4 separate regions of the Homo sapiens genome follow, and all the other regions are linked to region 2. The links come from fine-mapping of genetic effects on gene expression. A gene starts in region 2. Each other region holds a variant in brackets. All regions are shown on one strand. Distances are from middle to middle.

Region 1 (5,911 bases), 810 kb after region 2:
GTTGGAGTAATATCAAGTATCTTCTCTGACCATAATAGAATAAAAGTAGAAATTGATAGCAAGAAGAATTTTGGAAACTATACAAACACGTGGAAATGAAACAATATGAACCTGAATGACCAGTGGGTCAATGAAGAAATTAAGAAGGAAACGGAAAAGTTTCTTGAAACAAATGATAATGGAAACATAACATACCAAAACCTATGGGATACAGCAAAGGGAGTACTTACTAAAAGGGAAGTTTGCAACTATAAGTGCCTACATCAAAAAAGAAGAAAAACTTCAACTAAACAACCTAAGGATGCATCTTAAACAACTAAAAAAGCAAAAGCAAACCAAATCCAAAATTAGTGGAAGAAAATAAATAATAAAGGTTACAGCAGAAATAAATGAATTTGAAATGAAGAAAACAAAAAATCAACAGAACAAAATGTTGCTTTTTTCTGAAAAGATAAACAAAATTGATAAACCATTAGCTAGACTAATTAAGAAAAAGAGAGACATTAGACTCAACAAAATCAGAGATGAAAAAGGAGACATTACAACTGATACCACAGAAATTCAAAGGATTGTTAGTGGCAACTATGAGCAACTATATGCCAATAAATTTGGAAATCTAGAAGAAATGTATAAATTCCTAGACACATACAACTTACCAAGACTGAACCATGAAAAAATTCAAAACCTGAAAAGACCAATGACAGGTAATGAGATCAAGGTCATAATAAAATGTCTTTCAGCAAAGAAAAGCCCAGAACCTGATAGCTTCACTGCTGAATTCTACCACACTTTTTTTTTTTTTTTTTGAGATGGAGTCTCACTGTGTTGCCCAGGAGGGAGTGCAGTGGCGCCATCTTGGCTCACTGCAACTTCCATCTCCCAGGTTCAAATAATTCTCCTGCCTCAGCCTCCTAAGTAGCTGGGATTACACAGGTGCACACCACCATGCCCAGCACACACCTGTAAACCCAGCTACTCGGGAGGCTGAGGCAGGAGTAGTAATTTTTTTGTTTTTTTGTATTTTTAGTAGAGATGGGTTTTCACCATGTTGGGCAGGCTGGTCTTGAACTCCTGAACTCTGGTGATCTGCCCTCCTTGGCTTCCCAAAGTGCTGGGATTACAGGCATGAGCCACTGCCCTTGGCCCATACCAAACTTTTAAAGAAGAACTAGTACCAATCCTACTCAAACTATTCCAAAAAATGCAGGAGGGGGGAATACTTTCAAACTCATGTCATGAGGCCAGTATCATCCTGATACCAAAACCAGACACAGGCACAGCAGAAAAAGAAAACTACAGGTCAATATGCCTGATGAATACTGATGCAAAAATCCTCAACAAAATGCTTAGCAAATTGAATTCAGCAACATATTAAAAAGATTGTTCTTCATGACCAAATGGGATTTATCCTAGGGATGCAAGGATGGTTCAACATATGCAAATCAATTAATGTGATACTTCATATCAACAGAATGAAGGACAAAAACTATATGATCATTTCAGTTGATGCTGAAAAAACATTTGGTAAGGCTCAACATCCCTTCATGATAAAAACTCTAAAAAAAAAAAACTGGGTATAGAATGAACATACCTCAGTGTAACAAAAGCCATATACAATAGACCCATAGCTACTATCATACTGAATGAGGAAAAACTGGAAGTCTTTCTTCTAAGATTGGGAACATGACAAGGATGCCCACATTTACCACTGTTATTCAACATAGTACTGGAAGCCTTAGATAGAGCAAGGCATACAAGAGAAATAATGAAGAGCATCTATCTGGATTGGAAATGAAGAAGTCAAATTATTCTTATTTGCAGATAATATGATCTTGTATTTGGAAAAACCTAAAGGCTCCACCAAAAGACTATTAGAACTGATAAACAAATTCAGTAAAGTTGCAGGATACAAAATCAACGTACAAAAATCAGTAACATTTCTATATGCCAACAGTGAACAATCTGAAACAGAAATCAAGAAAGCAACCCCATTCACAATAGCTACAAATAAAATAAAATACCTAGGAATTAACTTAAGCAAAGAAGTAAAAGATCTCTACAATGAAAACTATAAAACATTGCAAGAAATTGAAGATACTAAAAAATGGAAAAAGATTCCATGTTCATGGATTGGAAGAATCAATATTGTTAAAATGTCCATACTACCCAAAACAATCTACAGATTTAATGTAATTCCTGTCAAAACATCAATAACATTCTTCTTCATGGAAATAGGGAAAAGAATTCTAAAATTTATGTGGAACCACAAAAGACCCAGAATAGCCAAAGTTATCCAAATGCAAAAAGTACAAAACTGGAGGAATTACATTACCTGACTTTAAATTACACCACAGAGCTATAGTAACCAAAATGGCATGGTATGGGCAATAAAACAAACACATAGACCAATGGAATAGAATAGAGAACCCAGTAATAAATCCATACATCTACAGTGAACTCATTTTTGACAAAGGTGCCAAGAACCTACACTGGGAAAAAGACAGTCTCTTCAATAAATGATGCTGGGAAAACTGAATATCCATCTACAAAAGAATGAACTAGAACTCTATCTCTTTCCGTAGACAAAAATCAAATCAAAATAAAGACTAAAGACTAAGACCTCCAACTATGAAGCTACCAAGAGAAAATATTGGGGAAACTCTCCAGGACATTGGAATGGGCAAAGATTTCTTGAGTAATAACCCACAAGCCTAGGCAACCAAAGCAAAAATGGACAAATGGGATCTCATCAAGTTAAAAAGCTTCTGCACAGCAAAGGAAGCAGTCAACGAAGTGAAAAGGCAACCTAAAGAATGAGAGAAAATATTTTCAAACTACCCATCTGACAAGGGATTAATAACCAGAATACATAAGGAGCTCAAACTCTATATGAAAAATCTAATAATCCAATTAAAATATGGGCAAAAGATCTGTATAAGCACTTCTCAAAAGAAGACATACAAATGACAAACAGGTATATGAAAACGTGCTCAATATCATAGATCATCAGAGAAATGCAAATCAAAACTACAACGAGGTATCATCTTACCCCAGTTAAAATGGCTTTTTGTTTTCCCCAAAATTCAGGCAAGAAGAAATGCTGGAGAGGATTGCAAGCATCTGTGGAGTCATTCTATTTTTAAATTCACCTTCCAATTGTTTTCTTAAAACCATTGACAAATATATAAACTGGTTAATCTTTCTAAATATTGTCTCATTACAAAAGCTTTCATTATTTTCCAGATTAAGTAGAAATCATTGAATAAAAATAACTCCAAATTATTAAACAAACAAACAAACAAAAATGATCCAATGATCTGGAACATTTTCTTCCCAAGCGAAAAGAGTTGAAAGTTCATT[CT/C]TTTTTTTTTTTTTTTTTTGTAGCCCAGAGGTCCTTTATTTTTTTTTTTAACACCTATTATGCCATGAATTCATAGGGAATAGGTTCCAGCAGCTCAGGCTCCTTCCCATTGGTTCTCACAAAGTGTGCTTCTCTGGGTGGAGCAGGCTGGCGCTTTAGTTGAACCCAGGTACCTTTCTCTTTGGCTTCTTTCTTTTTCTGATCATTTTCCTTCACACGTTTCAGGAAGCTATCTCGGCTCTTAGAGTGCTTAATGTGCTCAATACGCACATTAATTCTCTTGGCAAGAATCTTGCCCTTAACTTGTTTGTTTACAACAATGCCAACAGCATGCTGGGTAACATTGTAGACTCTTCCAGTTTTGCCATGGTAACACTTGTGGGGCATTCCTTTTTGAACAGTACCCATTCCCTTGATGTCTACAATATCACCTTTCTTATAGATTCGCATATATGTGGCCAAAGGAACAACTCCATGTTTTCTAAAAGGCCTAGAGAACATATATCGGGTGCCTCTCCTCTTTCCCTTTGTGTTCGTCATTTTGGCGAATTACTGGAAGATGGCGGTTCCGGCCGAAAGGGAAAGTTCATTCTTGAGCTGAGGCAGACAAACCATTTGGCTTTCTTCAAGGCAAATCACAGGTAAACATGGATTTAGATTATGTCTGTTCTAGCAAACTTTTTATTCACATGAAAAGGGCCTACATAAATATCAGTTCAAAGCAGAGAAATATGCTTTGGATAAACCAGGGAAGTTTGTTTCTGCAACAATATCAGTAGGTTGAGTATTAGATAGACCAAAGAAGGTGTCATTCGTCACCTGGAAAGTTGAGAGAGAAAAATCCATTGAAAACTGAAGATGGAAGAGACTGATACTGCTGTTTTGAATTTATGAGAGTCCAGAGGTGAGAGTTATAACCAGGCATTCCCTACTGTAGACATTTGCCAATTTATGCCCTCATGTTGCAATGAATCTTCAGAAGGACTAAGCATGGATGCTATTATTAAAGCTAATTAAATCGCTCTGAATTACAGCTCATCCAGGGTATTAGCTAACAGAATGGTCATCATACTGTCTGGAAGAAATAAATAAAAGGGGATTGGTTGAGTAAGGAATTCCACTGATGGGGTTTTTTGTTATTTTTCATTCAAAAATAAGCTCTCTGGAAATACTAGAAATTAAGACCCACTGTGCTTCATCTCTTAGAAGTGTTGTGTAATAGTGGTCCGACCCATGTTCATTGTTGAGAAGCAGGAACTGATTTTCTTGTCTAGTTTTTTAAAAAATCACATTTGCCAAAGTAATTAAATGAAAGGCTAATTGACAACAAACTTCCTATTGCCCTATAGTCACAACTTACATATGAAATAGCATATTTTGTTTCTCTTTTTGCATTTCAATATGGCAAAACCATTGATGTCTGAGGGACAGGCAGAGAGCAGATTAGTTTCCAGGCTCTAAACAATAACCAGAAAATGGCTTGTAATGAAAATCCAAGTTGAATATCACCATTGTGACAAGAAAAGGGAGATGTAATGAACCCAACAGCATCATCTATAGGAAAAGTAATTTAAAATGTTCACATAAAGTACAGCTAGTTTGGAGTGCAAATGAGCAGGAAAAGGGTTTTTGGAATCCATTTGGATGCATGTGGAGTGCATTTGAAAGTGATGTTGTATCATACTAGATATATATGTGTGTTTGTATATGTGTGTGCACGAATGGATGCCTGAGTCATATATATATGTGTATATATATGCATAGATGTATATATGTATATCTACATATGTAAAGTTACAAGTATATTTGACAAAATGAATGCAGTGGAGGAATGTGATTAATCAAATTATTTTTTATAATCCCTGTAGTTTGAAAAATAATTCACTTGGCTGGATTATGGCATGGAGGAAATCCTTAAAAAGAATCCCAGGGACCTGCTACGTCTCTGTGAGGGTCAGTTTATGTGTCAACTTGCCTAGGACATAGTACCCAATTATTTAACCAAAACAGTAGTTTAGGTGTTGTCATGAAGGTATTTTGTAGATGTAGTTAGCATCTATAAGCAATTGGCTTCAAATAAGGGGATTTCCTTAAGAGCAAAAACTGAGATTTCCCAGAGGGAAAATTCTGTCTCAATACTGCAGCATCAGTTCCTGCCTGAGCTTCTATCCTACTGACCACGTCAATTTCAGACTTGTGAGGCCCCGCAATCAAATGAGCCAATTCCTTAAAATAAATAAATCTCTTTAATTATTATATGCATTTGTATGTGTATACATGTGTATGTCTATTTATATCTATCCTACTGGCTCTATTTCTCTGGAGAGCCTTGACTGATAGTCTCAGATAACCTTCATATACTAGACAGTTCCAGCCTTCCCTGTACATTGCCTGATTTGAGTCTCAACTTTCAATGACCTCACTTGATTTATATTTAAATTATTTCATATTCATTTAAACACAGATATTAAAACGTGGTTGGAATTCTGATGAAAGTTTTCACTGAGGGAAAGTAGCTGAGATAATGGAATGATATTCCGTACCATACTT
Region 2 (5,740 bases):
TGGGGTGCTTGTCAAAGACAAGCCCCACCTACAGTCCCCAACACTGAATCAGTCTGGGCAAGGCCTGAGAAGCTGCACTTTATCAAAGCCCTCCTGAACCCACAGGACGGGTGGAACACACTTTGAGAAACCTCAGGAAGAATAAGGAAATCCCACTCTGAACCTTGGAAGGAGGGGTTAGGAACTCAAAATCCTCCGCGGAAAGACAGTGTCTCCAGTGAGATTTTGCTGAAAGGTAGGAAAAGTGTAAAATAGAAGGTACTGGGGGAGGCAGGACCACAGCCAGGTCCAAATCAGGGGTCCTGCAGGAGCAGCTCTGGCTTTTGTGGAGCCTGAAGTTTATACAATTTGAGGATCCTCTTTAAGAAAAATAATTCAAAATTACAAAAAAAAAAAAAAAATTAAGTACAGGGTCCCAAAAATCACTTGGCTGTCTTCTCAGTACCTCGGCCCACAGGCCCAAATGACCCCTTTCTCACTAGGCTTCTTCTTTTCACACGGCTGGGTGGTGATGACCAGTCAGGCAAGAACTTATGTTATTTTCCATAATGGGGAAAGACCCTACACCTACAATTCCAAAGAAAATCAGGCTATTGGAGTGGAGGCATCCAGTACCAATCCATGATGTTTAGTGGCTGATCTTCCTTCCTTCCTTCCTTTTTTCTTCCTTCCTCCCTTCCTTCCTTCTTTCCTTTTCTTTGGATCTCACTCTGTCACCCAGGGTGAAGTGCAGTGGCACGATCTAAGCTCACTGTAGCCTCAACCTCCCAGGCTCAAGCCATCCTCTCACTTCAGCCGTCTAAGGAGCTGGGACTACAGGCACGCATCACCATGCCTGGCTAATTTTTTAATTTTTTTGTAGAGACGGGGTTTTGCCATGTTTCCCAGGCTTATCTGGAACTCCTGGGCTCAAGCAATCCTCCTGCCTCAGCCTCCCAAAGTGCTGGGATCACAGGTGTGAGCCACTGAGCCCGGCCTGAGACCGACCTTTCTGTCAGTGATGTAACCACATTTTATGAGGTTTAAAATTTGTTGCCCTGAAATAATTTGTTCCCTAAAACTGCCTTCAGCCTTTTTGGGGTGCAACCTGGCTACACGCAAAATCACCCCAAATCCATGTATCTCCCAGGATACAATGGTTCTATCTGTCAGTCTTCAACCCAAAAGCAATCTAAAGTAATAAGTAACGCGTACAGGGCTATTCATAGCAGCTCTATTTATAACAGGCAAAAGGGAGAAAAGCTACTAATTATTACACTTTTATTATGTGCCACACATTGTACTAGGGGCTTCATATGGTTTTGAGTATTTAATCCCATAACCCTATGAAACCCACTTTGCAGGTGGAGAAAGGTGCTGGAACATCAGCTCTCCTGAGTCAAAATGAAGCCTTCATTTTTAGCTTTGTTGATTTTCATGATGTAAATATCCCATCATAACTACTTTCAAGCTACCTATGGTTTACAACCAGTTTCCAAACTTTTTGAATATTTGGCAACTGGCTCTTGCAAGCCAGTTTGAGCCAGCTCCAGCACATCACTGAAACGGAGGCACAGAGAGATCAAGTAATTTGCCCAGTGTTGCTGAATGACAGAGTCAAGGTTAGAACCAAGAGTTTAATTCGAGTCCAGGCTCTGAGCAGCGCTCCACAGGCCTGTGCCAACCATAGAGACTGGTTAACATTAACACCCACAAGGGAATTCTTTGACTCACATGCAACACAAAAAGGTTTACATGACCACTAACGCTAACGGAGCACTTAGTACTTGCCGGGCAACAATGTAAGATCATTACAACAACCCTATGAAATCCTACATATTAAATACAATAATTTGCAAAACCTGATGGATGGAAGACAGGTTCCAATTAAGTACTTTAAAAGGCGAGTAGCTACTGTTATTCCCACTGTGCAGAACCTCATTCTGCAGAAAGGTCCCACGGCTGGTGAATATGGCGAAGGTGAGATTCGGATCCAGCCAGTCTGGTCCCAGTCTCTAAACCACAATGTCCCTCATAAAATACCAGGAGCAGAAAGGAAATGCACCAACGCGTTGGGACTCTGAGCGCCAAGCAGAAGTGAATCTTGGCGTGGGAAGCCCGGCAAAGCCCCCGAACTTCAGAGTCAGGGGAACCTGGGTTTGAAAGCCTCCCCATCACCTGCGGAGTGTGACTGGGGCAAGTTACCTAACAGCGCCTGGCTTCCGCTCCCTCCTCACTCACCGGGTTGTCCTAGGGGTGAAGGGAGAGTTCACCCAACGCGGTGGACAAAGCCCTTGGCGCACCCAAAGGCCTGCACAGGTCGTAGCTATTGTGATGAGCAAAAGGGTGGAAGGACCGGAATCAAGGGCACGGCTCCACCTTCACCGTGGGGTCTTTGGCCTATCAAGTTGCCCGAGATCGTGGCTCAGGCTGGCCCAAAGTGACGGCCAAGGCGAATCCTTCGTAACGTCAGAACTTCGCTGGCTCGGACCGCAGAAGTGCCCTTCTCCATCCTGGGGTTCCGCCACCCTCGCGATCCCACCTTTTGGCTCCTCGCGGCAGAAGCGAAGGCCCCCGACGCCCCAGGCCCAGGGGCCCAGTCGGATGCCCGGGTCCAGCCGTGCTCCCCCGGGCGCTCGGCATCCTTCCACCCACGCCCGCAGCGGAGGCGGAGAGCGTCACGGAGGGAGAAGCCCGCGCGCCGTTCCGCTTTCGGAATCTGGAGCCCCATGTCACCTCCAAAGTTTGGAGATTTGGGGCGCTCCTTTTTCTCCCAGACCATCACTAAAAAGAAAACTGCGGCTGTTCCTCTTTCAGCCAAACTTCCTCCCCGGGGCTCCCGGAGGAGCTCTGCGCTCCCGTCGCGGCTGGGACCGCGAAGGTGCGGTACCCAGCGGGGAGAGGTGGTGCGGTCGGCCGGGGCTCCAGTCTGGGAGGTACCACCGAGCCGCGCCCGAGCACAAGAGGGAGGGCAGGAGGCCGGGCGGGCGAAACGGCGCCCCGACCCCGAGCCCGCGGGCCCCCGAAGCCGCTTACCTGACGGCGGCCGCTTCCTGCTCAGCCGGCTCACGGCGCGGTTGAACATCGCCGCGGGCGCCCGAGGAGGAAGAAGGAGCAGCCCGGCGGCGCGGCGGCTGAGCCGGAGGAAGGCGAGGAGGAGGAGGAGGGCGAGGAGGAGGAGGAGGAGGGCAAGGAGGAGGAGCGGGCTCAGCACCGCCCCGGAGCTCTAGGTCCCCGCCCGCCGCCCTCCTCCTAGCCAGGCGCCGCGTGGCGCGCTCAGTGCGCCCTGCCCGCCCCCGCTGGTGAGGACTCGCGGTTCCGCTCCGGGGTGCCCGGGCGGGGCAGGGCAGGGCAGCCCCGGGTGACCCCCGATCGCCCAGAGTGTGCCCCGCGCCTGGGATAAGGTGCACTGGCCCAGAGGGAGCCCGCGCCGCCGGGAACTTAGTAGCCCCGCGGAGGCGGTTAGCGCGTCCCGGGGTCCCTGGCCCTCGCCTGAGATGCCGCCCCGGCCCGCCCCGCCCAGCTTCAAGCTCCCGGGCCCATCGCGGTCTCCCGCCTTCTCCCTGTAGCCCCGGAGAAACTGGCACGGCGCCGCGGGCGCACCGCGCTTCGGGGCTCTCAGCGAGCCTTCGCAGGTGGCGGGCGGGGTCCCCTCCCGGGTCACAGGCTGGGAAGCCTAGGCCTCGCGGTTCTGCAGAGTCCGGGCGCGGCCCAGCCTGTGGCCTTTGCCTCCTCGTCACCAGGATCCCCGCCTGCTGGGGCCTGGCTGCTCCTCGACTTCGTGGGCGCTGCGCCTTCCCGCCCCGCGAATGCGGGTGGGGCGTCCCCAGGGCCCGTGCGCTGAGCTAGCCGAGCCGCCGCGGGTGGGCGCCCTCTCCCCGGCCGTGCCGCGCGGGCGCCAGGACTCGGGGAGATCTGAGAGGATTCTGCAGGAACCCCCCGGTTCCTGCGCCGGGCGGTGCTCTGTCCCGCACACCGCGCTCTCGGGACACTTCTCTAACTTTGGGGACACGTGGGCACTGCCTCTGGCAGGGCCTTCAGGCTCCACGACCGGGACCACTCAAGCCCCCACGGCGTCACCTGCTGGGCGCTGCGCGCTCTACGGTCTCCTATTATTTCATTTCTTCTATGGAGCAGCCCCAGAGGGGATGTCATTAGCCCCCATTTTCTTGAACATTTGGTTTGCAAGAAATTGTCTTTCTGGCGAGTTTTATTTTTCTCCTTGTGTATCTGGCTTTGTCTCTAAATTGGTCTTTATTTTTAGCTGTACTAATTGCTATTTTTCCAAACCGTTCCCCAGTCGCCCTCCCCCCATCCCCCCGTCCTTTTGCAGTTTTTTTCACTACTTGGCACTTTCTTTTGTATCTTCTATTCTGAGCTTCCAGTTCTGCTCACTTTCCCTCTCCCTCTACCCACCCCACAGCCCCAGTTGCACCCCAAGTGTGGCCGGTGGTTGCTTGTTGTTTCCCTCCCCGCTATTCCCCCTCCAAAAGTCGTTTTCCTCCGAGCATTTCCAAGCACTCTCCCCCTTCTGCTGCCAAAAGAGGATTTCCAGGCTCCTGAAGCGAACGCGGTGACCAAGAACAGGGTTAGACCCAGCGCGGGGAGTTCTGCTTTTAAAACTGCTGTTGTTGGCCTACTCCGGGCCCAGACAAACTTCCATCTCATTGTAATGGGATCAAGCTGTGATACTTAACTATAGGCAAGAGTTTCACCTTTCGTAAGAGCGGGATTTTAAATGCTGGCAGAGTCCTGGATCCAAGTGAGGTCACTGCGTTCTTAAAACAATAAGGGAATTGGTGCAACGCACTCACCCAGAAAACTTCCCCGAGACCAAATTACAAGTAATCCTAAGACAGGAAATAAGCACACTGGCACACAGGGGTAAAAGTTAGGCACAGCAGCTCAGTGTTTTGCTAGTTGCCAAGTCCACCCTAGCGTGTCCTGAAAAACACTGGTGTGGCTTAAGACATGCTATGAATCCCTCCTGAGCTAAGAACCCCAGGCATCTCTTAAATAAAGGGAAAATATAACAGCCTTAAATCACTTTTACTGTCCTGTTAGCACATCAGAGAGTAAGTACAAAAATTAAGATGCATAGTTAGGGCCAGGCGCTGTGGCTCACGTCTGTAATCCCAGCACTTTGGGAGGCAGAGGCAGGCGGATTACCTGAGGTCAGGAGTTCAAGACCAGCCTGGCTAACATGGTGAAGCCCCATCTGTACTAAAAATACAAAAATTAGCCAGGCCTGGTGGCAGGTGCCTGTAATCCCAGCTACTCAGGAGGCTGACACAGAAGAATCACTTGAGCCTGGGAGGAGGAGGTTGCAGTGAGCCAAGATCTGAAGGAGGAGGTTGCAGTGAGCTGAGATCTCACCACTGCACTCCAGCCTGGGCCACAGAGCAAGACTCTGTCTCCAAAAAAAGGAAAAAAAGGCCGGGTGCGGTGGTTCACACCTGTAATCCCAGCACTTTGGGAGGCCAAGGCGGGCGGATCACCTGAGGTCGGGAGTTCGAGACCAGCCTGACGAACATGGTGAAACCTCATCTCTACTAAAAATACAAAATTAGCCAGGCGCGGTGGCAGGCATCTGTAATCCCAGCTACTCAGGAGGCTGAGGCAGGAGAATCGCTTGAACCCGGGAGGCAGAGTTTGCAGTGAACTGAGATCGAGCCATTGCACTCCAGCCTGGGTGACTGAGCAAGACTCCATCTCAAAAAAAAAAAAAAAAAAAATGCATGGTTAACGTTTAAGTGCACAG
Region 3 (5,911 bases), 40 kb after region 2:
GAGATGGAAGAACGTACCAGTTTGTTATAAAAAGATACAAAACCATAGCCTTTGGATTTTCCAGTTGCCATGTCTTTAACTACCCGGGCATCCCTGTGAAAAGAAGCACAGCTAAATGAGGGAAGTAAGAGCCACCCTCAAAATAAAAACTAAAAGGAACCACACACACTGTATTGTGAGCATTTTTAAAATAAAATTCCAGTTAGCCCTAATTAACTACAACCATTCCTGAACTCTCCCTAATGCTTCTTTACCTGTTAGAAAAAAGCAGTAGGACAAAAACATGTAATAAACATGCAACCTAATCAAATAGCCTGTGCTTTCTAAACTAAATGCTCAAATTTGAAGATTAATAGGAACAACAGTTTCCCTTTCTAATATTCTATTTACTAGTGTCCTCTAAGGTTTACTGATTCTATAAATTACTGTAACAATACTAACTACTTTACCATGCAATCTCTAAATAGTTAAATGTCTTCTGCCTAGTGATACAAAATATATGAAATATTAAAAAATTGAAAAAGAGGAAAAAATAGGAATTAAAAAGGCATACATGGCCTGTTAACAGATTTCTTTATTTTTCTTGGTCAATTCTCTACCATCATTTTGGAGTTTGGGCAGCTGTAAATTTTGAAAAATTGACATTTTCAGAAATTTAAGAAAGGAGAATAAAAAACTAACAACAATGCTAAGCACACCAGTACGAAAACAACAAATTTACACAGAAATTTTAGTGAGTAAGTTAAATGATTGGAAATATAGAACTCCACTGAATATAGAATGTTAAAATGTAAATACTAAAATATGTATATATAAATAATGTATAATAAGAATAAATAGAAATGAGAAAAAAAATCTACAACTGAGTTCCAGTGTGCACAGTTCCTTGCAGTTAGCCTTCAAGATCCTGTCCATTCTTATGAGCAATTCTGCAAAATAACCAGAATGCTATTACTTTTAATTGTGACTTGGACTTAAGAAAAACTGCAGGTCTCAGGTATAAATAAAGATTGAAAAACAGCAACCTGTATTATTTTTATATTGATTTTTAAAATAGTACTACTTACCACATTTAGATTAAAAAGCAAAGCAAATATCAAAACAGAAAGTTAAGAATTACATCTTTTAAAGAAATTAAATCTATAGAACAACAAATTGTATAGAGAAAATATTGTTGTTCTTAGTTGAAACACTTTCCTGTAAAGTAGTACTAAGATGTTTAATTTAAATCTACAGGAAATATACAAAATAAACTGATTTTAATCAGAAAGATAAATTATGATAAACATTTTCTACAATTCATAACCATTTTTAGTTTTCCAATATATTTTTTACCAAGTAACAACAGTAAAATCTGAGCATAAATTTGTTAAAAATCAAACCACATTTGCCTCTTAACTAGTAGAATCAAATATCACTAACAAAAACATCTAATTAATCCCACATTTATGACTCATACATTGAAACATTTTAATAGTATAATAGTACTTTTCACTTATAGCTAAAATATCAAAAACACATTTATCATAATAAAACATGAACATTTCCAATTTAATCACAATATATCCAAGGATTTACCTACTCTCCCCCATTTATAAATTCCTCCTATAAAAGTTATTGAACTCTTACACAGTATAGATCACATTTACTTTTGATTAACTCATTATCCTAAACCATCAAATTTTGAAAACATATGACAAAAAGCTAGACTTTATAAGTTTTACCATTCAAACATCTGCTTCAAAGATAACAAACAGAATCACTTAAATTTTTTTTAACATATTATACACAGGATTAGATGAAAACGAGACCCCAAGACACTGAAATGACATTAACATTTTCAACAACATCCACTACTCAAAACAAACCAAAATAAATAAATGAAAAATAAGAAACAAAACAAAACCATACTAACTAGAGAAAGAAAATCTTAATTCAATTACAAGTTAATCATATACAATTCTGCCTATCATGACTGAGTGTAGTACTGATTATGATACTTACGATATTTTACCAAAGGGGGCAAATGCTGATTTGATATCTTCTGTTGTAATTTCTGGACTCAAATCCCCAACAAACACATGGAAGTGATCTGAAATCAGAGCATTTGGTAATCAAATACTTAAGAAGTCAGCCACTAAAACCTTTTTAAGGCAACTCTAGAGGAGGAAAAAAAAACCTATTTAAGCTGGTAATGCCTCCTGGATAATTTCAGAACTCTTCCACAGTAAAATGCAGCAGGAGTACTTACTGGAAGTATCTTTTTTCTGGCTACTTGGTGTGGTTGCCCAGTTTACTTTGACCTCCTAAAAATAAAGATTATATTTAATAAAATTATTAGGCATGTCATGAGTTACAACACTTACCACTTATTAAATCATTTATCAAGCAGGGTTATTTTTGTAAAAGCACTAAGCTGAATAAAGCAAAACCATCACTCAGCAGCCGAATATCTGCTCAAAAATTTGCCTAGAAAGAATACAAACTAGTTTGACATGCAAATATATGTACTCATAAGGTGCCATCATCCTATTATCTTACCTTTCCCAAAATTTTTCTCCCATTCATAGCAGCTAATGCAGCAGCTGCATCTCTGTGTTCATAAAATTCCACAAAGCAATATGGGTCATTGCTTGTATGCTGCAAAACAGAAAATCCAACAGAAGAGTTGACCCTTCTGCTATCGGGTTGCTGAGAAGAAAATCCAGGAAAAAACATTACTGATAGCTGGGAATATACAAGGTGAGACTGCATAAGCTTATGAAAGCCTAACACTTTTTAAATAAGATTTAAAGCTAAACCTGACTTTGCACCTCAGAATACTGCTGAACTCAAACGGAACTATAAAAGCAGTTGTAGAATCATGAGCATCAGTATTAAATGAAAATAAAGAATTCTGGTGAAGTGTGTTAAATATAAAATAGAAGATTATATTAAACCAAACAAAACCTCAAACT[C/A]AGATCTGATGAGGACCACTCCTTACCACTACTTTCCTTCTCCAATATTATTTTTAAATTACGTTCTACTTATGCATCATAATCCTCTATAAGTGGTATCCCAGGATACAGAAATACAGCAAGAACCAACTTCATAAACTACTGATCAAAATTAGGATCAATACTACAAATGATGGAATTCTATGCTGCTACAAAGACTGAATTTTATTGATTTCTTTTCTGGATATGGAAAGAATGAAAATAAAAACAAGAAAACTTAAGCTTTATAACCAGCTACTGAAATGAATTCCCTACCTTCCAAAATAGTCTAATGTACTGAAGATTCTATATACTTTGAATTTGGTCTTCCAAAGATCAGAGAAATAACAGTGGTGATCAAGAAAAGAGGTTCTGAAAATGTATCTGAATAAAATATTCCAAGACAAAGCTATAAGTTTACATCATAAGAACACCATATAAAAAATCTATATTAAATATATTCTGCAACCCTGTGCTTGACAGTAGTTACCTAAAACACATTTATAAAGATGTGAAGAAAGTAGTACTACCTAAGCTATAGCAACATTCTCACCTGACAACCAAACTAGAAATGAATTTCTATGAAACTGCAACCTGTACTGAATAGCTGCACAACTGTACAAATACATATTTTTATGTAAGGCTAAAAACATTCATCATTATTCAATGTAAAATGCCCTATAAGAATAATATTTAAAATGTGGAATTCTAGTTGGACTTACAAGGGATAAATATACCAGATAAAATAAAGATCTTTTCAACCACAACAGTTTTTCATTCCAGGAAAGTTTTAGAAGAAAAATCCAAAATAAGACGTCTAAACAATAGTGGCAAAGGAACCAGAAGGCATTTCCTTGAGGGAAAAAAAGTGGGATCGTTAATACTGACAACAAAACTATGGGCTCTCATACAAAATCCTACTGTTGTAGCCACGTGAATGCTGTTCTTAAGAGGTAAAGAAAGGAAATGGGGGAAGACTTCAAATGAAAACACACATTTAAATTCTTGTAAAAGAGTTATTACATTTACCATAAATATTCATTGAAGAAAGGACATCAAAATAAATAAGAGGCTAAAATTGTGCTAGTTGAGTTTTCCTTTCACTCCTATCTCTTTTGCCCCAATGGTCTCTAAGGAAAACACTGATAATCACAGCAAAACATACAGGGGTCCAACAGCAGATCTATGATAATCCCATACACTTTAGGAAACTAGTCTACTCGTGAATACCAATTTCAAATCTATCTAATAGTAGGCCAGCTCCCAATCAATGTATGCACGTGCATGTATATATACACATATATTCACTGACATCACATATTTTATATATTCACATCACACTGCATATCATCTAATTTAAGACACCACTTATTTCTAAGTCACATCCCAACTGTCAGATATTAAAATTCTAAAAAAATTTGACTTAGAATCAATAATATATATTTGTATTATATAAGGAAAGCTAGAATCTATGATAACAACATCTAAAGTAAAAAAAAAATCATAAAACTATGGGGGAAAAAGGATTTTTCACATACTGAAATGAAATTTATGAAAGAAAAATAAATAGCTGCTAGATACTCTGCTAGAGTTTATACCCTCTGGAAGCTTCTTATTTACACCACCAAGTGACATCCTAAAAATCAATTATGGGCTGGGTGCAGTGGCTCACACCTGTAATCCCAGCACTTTGGAAGGCTGAGGCAGCTGGATCACTTGAGGTCAGGAGTTCGAGACCAGCCTGACCAACATGGTGAGACCCCCATCTCTACCAAAAATACAAAAAATTAGCTGGGTGTGGTGGCGGGCGCCTGTAATCCCAGCTACTCAGGAGGCTGAGGCAGGAGAATCGTTTGAACCTGGGAGGCAGAGGTTGCAGTGAGCCAAGATCGTGCCACTGCACTCCAGCCCGGGCAACAGAGCCAGACTCTGTCTCAAAAAAAAGTGCTCACGCCTGTAACCCAAGCACTTTGGGAGGGCGAGGTGGGCGGTTCACGAGGTCAGAAGATCAAGACCATCCTGGCTAATATGGTGAAACCTTGTCTCTATTAAAAATACAAAAAATAAAAAAATAAAAAATATTAGCTGGGCATGATGGCACGCACCTGTAGTCCCAGCTACTTGGGAGGCTGAGGCAGGAGAATCACTTGAACCCAGGAGGCCAAGGCTGCAGTGAGCCGAGATCATGCCATTGCACTCCAGCCTGGGCAAAAGAGCAAGATTCCATCTCAAAAAAAAAAAAAAAAAAAAAAAATCAATTATGGCTGGGTGCAGTGTCTCATGCCTATAATCTCAGCACTTTAGGAGGATGAGGCAGAGGCAGGAGGATCACTTGAGCCTAGGAGTTTAGGACCAGCCAGAAGTTCGGGACCATTGGTAACATGGTGAAACCAATCTCTACAAACACATTTAAAAATGAACTAGGTGTGGCGGTGCTGTCCCAGCTACTTGGGAGACTGAGGTGGGAGGATCACTTGAACCCAGGAGGTGGAGGCTGCAGTGAGCCATGATGGCGCCACTGCACTCCAGCCTGGAGGACAGAGTCAGACCCTGTCTCTTAAAAAAAAAAAAAAAAAATCCGTTATGTCCCTACCTTATTTAGCGTTGTCACCAATTTTTGTTGGATGACATAAATGTCAAGACAGAGAAATATGAGACTTTACAAGCTCAAATCTAGGAGTTCTAGAATATGGATGTTATGAAAATTCATTTCGAGTCCCTCTACCCTTCAAATAGCTGTATGTATACATGGGGTTTTAAAAAATAGTTAAAATAAATCTTTACAAATGTTTCTCAAAAATTTTCTAGTGAGTCTTTCCCCACTTTCTCACAACCCGTTCTCTCCTAAACCTACTTCTGTCAGCTTCCAAGCTAACCATGCCACTGAAACTGCATGTTGAGCTCAACAATGACCTCTCTGCTGCTTCTGTGATTCC
Region 4 (5,911 bases), 51 kb before region 2:
GAAATACACTTTTAAAATAAAGTGATGGGAGGCTGGGTGCAGTGCTTCACACCTGTAATCCCATCACTTTGGGAGGCTGAGTCGGGTGGATCACCTGAGGTCAGGAGTTTGAGACCAGCCTAGCCAACAAGATGAAACCCCATCTGTACTAAAAATACAAAAATTAGCCAGGCATGGTGGCATGCGCCTATAATCCCAGCTACTTGGGAGGCTGAGGCATGAGAACCCAGGAGATGGAGGTCGCAGTGAGCCAAGATCATGCCACTGCACTCCAGCCTGGGTGACAGAGCAAGACTCTGTCTCAAAAATAAAAATAAAATAAAGTGGTGGGAAAGAGAGACGTTTAGTATCTCAGCCACACTAAACCTTTAAGCCTCTGTGCACACAGCCAGTCATTTCTTGATCTCTTTGTTAATATAACTTTAGTATCAGGCAGTTTGTTGTACAAAGTCCTGCAGTTCTTCAAGTAATAAACTCACATCAAAACACTGTTTCCGAGCATTAAAAAAATATATAGCATTGATTTAAAAAATGAATGAACTGAACAAAGGTCTCCCACTAATGACCCTCGTGGGATATTTGAGAGGGTTTTGGAGCCAGCAGAGGCCAAACTAGAGAGTGGGGCGGGGTGGGGGCGGGGACGGTAGTCAAAAACGTCAGCGCAAGCCCAGGAAGTACCTCGAAACCTCATCTTCCTGCCCGAAGATGAACTGCCTGAACTGTGCGGGGCAGAAAGGATGGGAGCAGCTGCCCCACCTTCCTGCCCAGTCCCAGCCTCTGGGGAGAGGGTCTCCCCAGGGCACCCTTCTGGGAGAGACAAGGAGAAAAGTTGGTGGGAGGGGACGGTCTGACCAGGATGGGTGCCCAGGGCCTTGGAGGGTCCTCCCGTGCTGCAGGGACCCGCAAGAACCCCGGGAGCTGCCTCCCTCCACAGCTCACCAGCTCCCCCGTGAGCTCAAGCCAGGAATTTCAGGCAGGCTCTCGGGGGTCCCCAGACTTCCTTCTACTCCAAGGAGCCTGGGGAGCCCGGGACCTCCCAGAAAAGCATGTGGGCAGCTCTGCCCTAGGAGACCATGGTTCTTGTCAAGAAAAAGTCACCGAAGTCCAAGAGGCTCCTCCAAAGAATGTCTACTGAATTCCCTTCCCCTTCCTTCGGACACAAAATGTCTGGAGAGGCAACAACCTGGTTCCAGGTTGGAAATGGAGCCATATTACGCTGCTGGGGCACCCACCACTCAGATCTCCCTCTCACTTCTCTGGCTTCCCCCTGCATGTCCCCTTCTGGGCCCAAATCCTCTCCTGAGAGCCCCCCCACCCCTGGTTTCGAGCCTGCAATCATTTGAATGACATTCAGGTCCAGCTGGCTGCCCGTCGATCACGACTCGAACGCGGGGTAACATCGTGTGCATGTGTGTGCGGGGGACTGGGGGGACAGTGAAAGAGTCCCAGGCAAGGATCCAGGAGTCAGACCCGGCCGGGATCTGCTACCCTTCCCTGCGCACCTTAGGCAGACCACACGACCTATCCCTGGTTTGGTGGCCTCATAATAATCACCAAGGTTTATTAAGCCGCTGTGCGCAAGGCACTGTGCTGCGCACATTGCATGTATTATCTCATTGGATTTTATATAGTGCTAGCGTCTGAATGTTTGTGCCGCCCCCGACCCCCGCCCCAAATTCACATGTTGAAACCGAGTCCCCAGTGTGATGATATCAAGAGGCAGGGCCGGCTGGGGCACAGTGGCTCACACCTGTAATCCCAGCACTTTGGGAGGCCAAGGCGGGCGGATCACTTGAGGTCAGGAGTTCGAGACCACCCTGGCCAACATGGCAAAACCTCCTCTCTACCAAAAATACAAAAATTAGCCAGGCGTGGTGGCGCATGCCTGTAATCCCAGCTACTCAGGAGGCTGAGGCAGGAGAATCGCTTGAACCCAGGAGGCAGAGGTTGCAGTGAGCCCATATCATGCCACTGCACTCCAGCTTGGGTGACAGAGCGAGACTCCATCTCAAAAAAAAAAAGAGGCAGGGCCTTTCGCGGGTGATTAGGTCATGAAGGCTCTGGGTCGGCACCTGAATGAATGGGAATCAGTGCTCAGAGACCCTAGGGAACTTGCTTGCCCTTTCCAGCTGAGCATGTGCCCAGCATGTGAGGACATAAAAGGCACCATGGATGAGAAACAGGCTCTCACCAAACACCTCATCTGTCAGTGTCTTTAATCTTGGGCTTCCCAGCCTCCAGAACTGTGAGCAATAAATATCTGTTGTTTTTGAGTTACCCAGGTATTTTGTTATAGCAGATGAAACAGACTAAGGCATAGGGACCAATATTATCCCATCTAATAATTGAGAAAACTTGGGCTTGAAAAGATCCATGATGGCTTACGCAAGCTCACAGGGCTAATAAGCGACGGAGCTGGGATAGAATTTAGGCAGTTGAACTTCATGACATGAACATAACCACAATTCTCATGCTAACCAATAGTAAAATAATAATAATAAACAAATAATGAGGCTAGGCGCAGTGGCTCGTGTCTGTAATCCCAGCACTTTGGGAGGCTGAGGTGGGTGGATCACTTGAAGTCAGGAGTTTGAGACCAGCCTGGCCAACATGGTGAAACGCCATCTCTTCGAATGCTACAAAAATTGGCCGGGCGTGGTGGCGCACACCTGTAATCCCAGCTACT[C/T]GGGAGGCTGAGGCAGGAGAATTGCTTGAACCCAGAAGCAGAGGTTGCAGTGAGCGAAGAGTGCACTGCTGCCCTCCAGTCTGGGTGACAGAGCATGACTCCATCTCAAAAATAATAATAATGATGATGATAGTTGACAGAGGTTCTTTTAGTGCTAAGGTTCTGGGGAAACCTGCAAATTTAGTAAAGGTGGACCCACATTTTCATGTTTTCAGGTCATGATGAGTGACCTCGCTCCTTTAGGAAAAAAGAGAGAAATATTCCCTTTGGGAGGCACAGGGACAGCCTCCTGGGAGATCAGAGTCTCGCCTCTGCCTCTGCAATCAGCCAGGATCTGTAGACACAGATATTTATGAGGCAGTCTGCGGTGCTCTATTTCTTCCCCCATTCTTATGGGGGTGAGAGGGGCAGAAGGAGACCAAAAGCCACATACTTGCAAAGTCATCCTTCCTCTGGAGACCAAGAAGCAGCAGATTCTTTTCCTGGGAAACAAGTCTATCAGGCAGACATCTGTTACTCTTTGCGATCTGTATGCCATAACAGTTTAAAAAACAGAGTTTAAATGCTTAAAGAAGAAGAAAACAGTTTGCCTGTGTTGCAAAGCAGCATATAAACGGTGCTGGAATTAGCACAAGGGAAACATTTATCTTTCCTAGATAATCTCAAAACAGGCCTTTTTTTTTGGATTGTATATAATTATGTTTATTGGCATGGAAAGATGCTCATGATATATCACTAAAGGAAAAACAAAAAACAAAAAACAAAACTGGTTGCAAACACAAACTAGGCTTTTTAAAGAAGCATTGACTCTGCCTCCCTGGCTGGGGCCGGGGCCCTCTGTGTATCCCATAGAGGAAAGGGTAGAATGGGCCAAGACTGGCTGGGTAGTAGCCTTCTTCCTGGGAGAACAGAGACAGAGTCACATTTTCCAGCAGGAATGACCAAAGATTTGCCTGAGCTGGATAAGCCCAGCCTGGTGTAGTGATGGATGGTGGGCTCTGGGGATCCAAAAGACCTGGGTTCCAGTCCTAGCCCCACTATGAGTCGTGGTGACCTAGTGCAGTTTCAATGCTGCTGGAGCTCACTTCTCCACTGACACAGTGGAAGTCACATCTCCTGCACACAGGGGAGGTGCTCATGAAAGGGTGGGCTTCTCTCCCTCCAATCTGTGTTTTTTTTATTGTTTTTTTTTTTTTTGAGATGGAGTCTCACTGTGTCTCCCAGGCTGGAGTGCAGTAGCACAATCTTGGCTCACTGCAACCTCTGCCTGCTAGGTTCAAGCAATTCTCCTGCCTCAGCCTCCCAAGTAGCTGGGATTACAGACATCCACCACCACGCCCGGCTAATTTTTGTATTTTTAGTAGAGACGGGGTTTCACCATGTTGACTAGGCTGGTCTAGAACTCCTGACGTCAAGTGATCTGCCCGTCTCAGTCTCCTAAAATGCTGGGATTACAGGAATGAGCCACTGCGCCCGGCCTCCAATCTGTGTTTTTATGACAAAGGCATGGATTGGCCATGAGCAATGGGCAGCCCTGGGGTGGCAGGCTGTGAATGAGGGGGAAGGGGCTGCCTCGAGGGGTTCGGTCCCCTCCTCAGGAGCTAACACACAGCCTGAGACCTGAAGGATGAGAAGGAGCCGGCCACACCAGGGTCTGGAGGAAGCCACTCTGCGCATTGGCCGTGGCCCACGCAAAGGCTGCGGGAAGCAACATCCTGCCTTGCTTCCGGTCGGCTTCAGGCCTGTGAGGCTGGGAAGGGCCAGTCGTGGAGGATGGAGGGTGAGGTGGGACTGAGCTACATGTCCCGGGCCTTGGTTATGATCTGAATTTTGATGTTGAGAACAAGAAAAAGACACAAAAGGGGCTTAAGAAGAGTGAGCAGCATGACCAGGTTTGTTCTTTTAAAAAACTGGATACTAGGCCAGACGCGATGGCTCACACCTGTAATCCCGGCACTCTAGGAGGCCAAGGCTGGAGGATCGCTTAGGGTGAGGAGTTCAAGACCAGCCTGGGCAACATAGGGAGACCCCCATCTATACAAAAAAAAAAAAAAATATATATATATATATATATATTATATACACACACACATACACACACACACACACACACACACACACACATATATATAACAAATTAGCCAGGTGTGGTGGTGTGTGCCTATAGCACCAGCTACTCAGGAGGCTGAGGTGGGAGGATCACTGGAGCCCAGGGGTTTGAGGCTGCAGTGAGCTATGATCACACCACTGCCCTCCAGCCTGGGCAACAGAGTGAGACCATGTCTCTTAAAAAAAAAAAAAGAAGGATACTAGATGAAGATGAGGAGCAGGGGTGTGGCGTGAGGAGGACAGACCAGCTAGGAGGAGGAGCCTCTGGGCAAGAGATGAGGTGACCTGGTCAGGGCCCGTGGCCATGGAGATGGCAGGCATGGACACGGTGAAGCTATATTTTGGAGAAGAATCTAGAGGACTTTCTGATGATCAGATGTCGAAGTGCAGGACAGAGGAGACTCTCAGGCCACTTCCAGCTGCCCCTACCCAGTGGCCTTGTGGGAATCAGGAAAAGGGCTCCTCTAAACAAGCATGCAGCACAGGGCACCCGTGCAAGACCCTCACCCTGAGACCCTCCCTTGCAAGTGCGAAGTTGCTCAAGCCCCTGATTCTCACTCAGAGACCTGGTCAATTTTGGACTTGCAAAGCTTGTAGTGTCTGTGGCAATCCAAGGGGAGCCCTGGGCTCTGCCCAAGGTTTAGGGACCATTTCAACACAGTGATTCTACCCCTGGCTCCAGCTGTGTGTGAAGTTTCTTCCCTCCCTGCCTGGGCACCAGACTTTTTACAGTACTCACTGCATTGGACGCAACTAACCTTGTGAAGAAAAGAGTTTTTAAAACCCTGGAAGCTAATGTTACAAGACTATTTAGCACTTAAATAAATGCAAGTTCTAGAACATCTGCAGCCAAAATGAAAGTAAATAATGACAGAATGTGAGTCATGAGTAGTTTGCAAAGATTGTAAACAAAGCATCCTCCCAAATTCAGAGCCATGGCCTGAGAGTTGGGTACCAATTAATCAGCCCTTAACTCTATCACACACAAAAGGACACGTGTCCTCATTAGCAAGTCATGAGGGGAACTTAGCTAACTGACTGTCACTTTGCTATCTGGAGTTCACTTAAAACTGAAATAAAAAGCTTATTCCCTGAAGAACAGAGCACTCATGCTCA

Evidence for each region. PIP is the estimated chance that this variant, and not a neighbour inherited with it, causes the effect.
Region 1: its variant is fine-mapped to the expression of RGS10 in monocytes after LPS (Kim-Hellmuth 2017, PIP 0.95).
Region 3: its variant is fine-mapped to the expression of RGS10 in whole blood (TOPMed, PIP above 0.99).
Region 4: its variant is fine-mapped to the expression of RGS10 in whole blood (TOPMed, PIP 0.96).

What each region holds. Positions count from the first base shown.
Region 1 is chr10:120,351,283-120,357,193 of GRCh38, forward strand. It overlaps the pseudogene RPL21P16. Among named protein-coding and RNA genes, the nearest start is that of PLPP4, 100 kb to the right of the region's middle. The variant CT/C (reference allele first, on the strand shown) is at 3,361.
Region 2 is chr10:119,539,575-119,545,314 of GRCh38, forward strand. It overlaps RGS10 (regulator of G protein signaling 10), which reads right to left and starts at 3,145. Exons shown (of 5, transcript NM_001005339.2): 1 at 3,016-3,145. The coding sequence starts at 3,064. RefSeq lists silencers at 2,598-2,767, 2,818-3,557, 3,568-3,637, 3,688-3,847 and enhancers at 4,058-4,137, 4,400-4,908.
Region 3 is chr10:119,579,918-119,585,828 of GRCh38, forward strand. TIAL1 (TIA1 cytotoxic granule associated RNA binding protein like 1) reads right to left here. Exons shown (of 12, transcript NM_003252.4): 3 at 2,542-2,640; 4 at 2,252-2,306; 5 at 2,005-2,092; 6 at 18-93. Among named protein-coding and RNA genes, the nearest start is that of TIAL1, 14 kb to the right of the region's middle. The variant C/A (reference allele first, on the strand shown) is at 2,958.
Region 4 is chr10:119,488,978-119,494,888 of GRCh38, forward strand. No RefSeq gene overlaps it. Among named protein-coding and RNA genes, the nearest start is that of RGS10, 51 kb to the right of the region's middle. The variant C/T (reference allele first, on the strand shown) is at 2,687.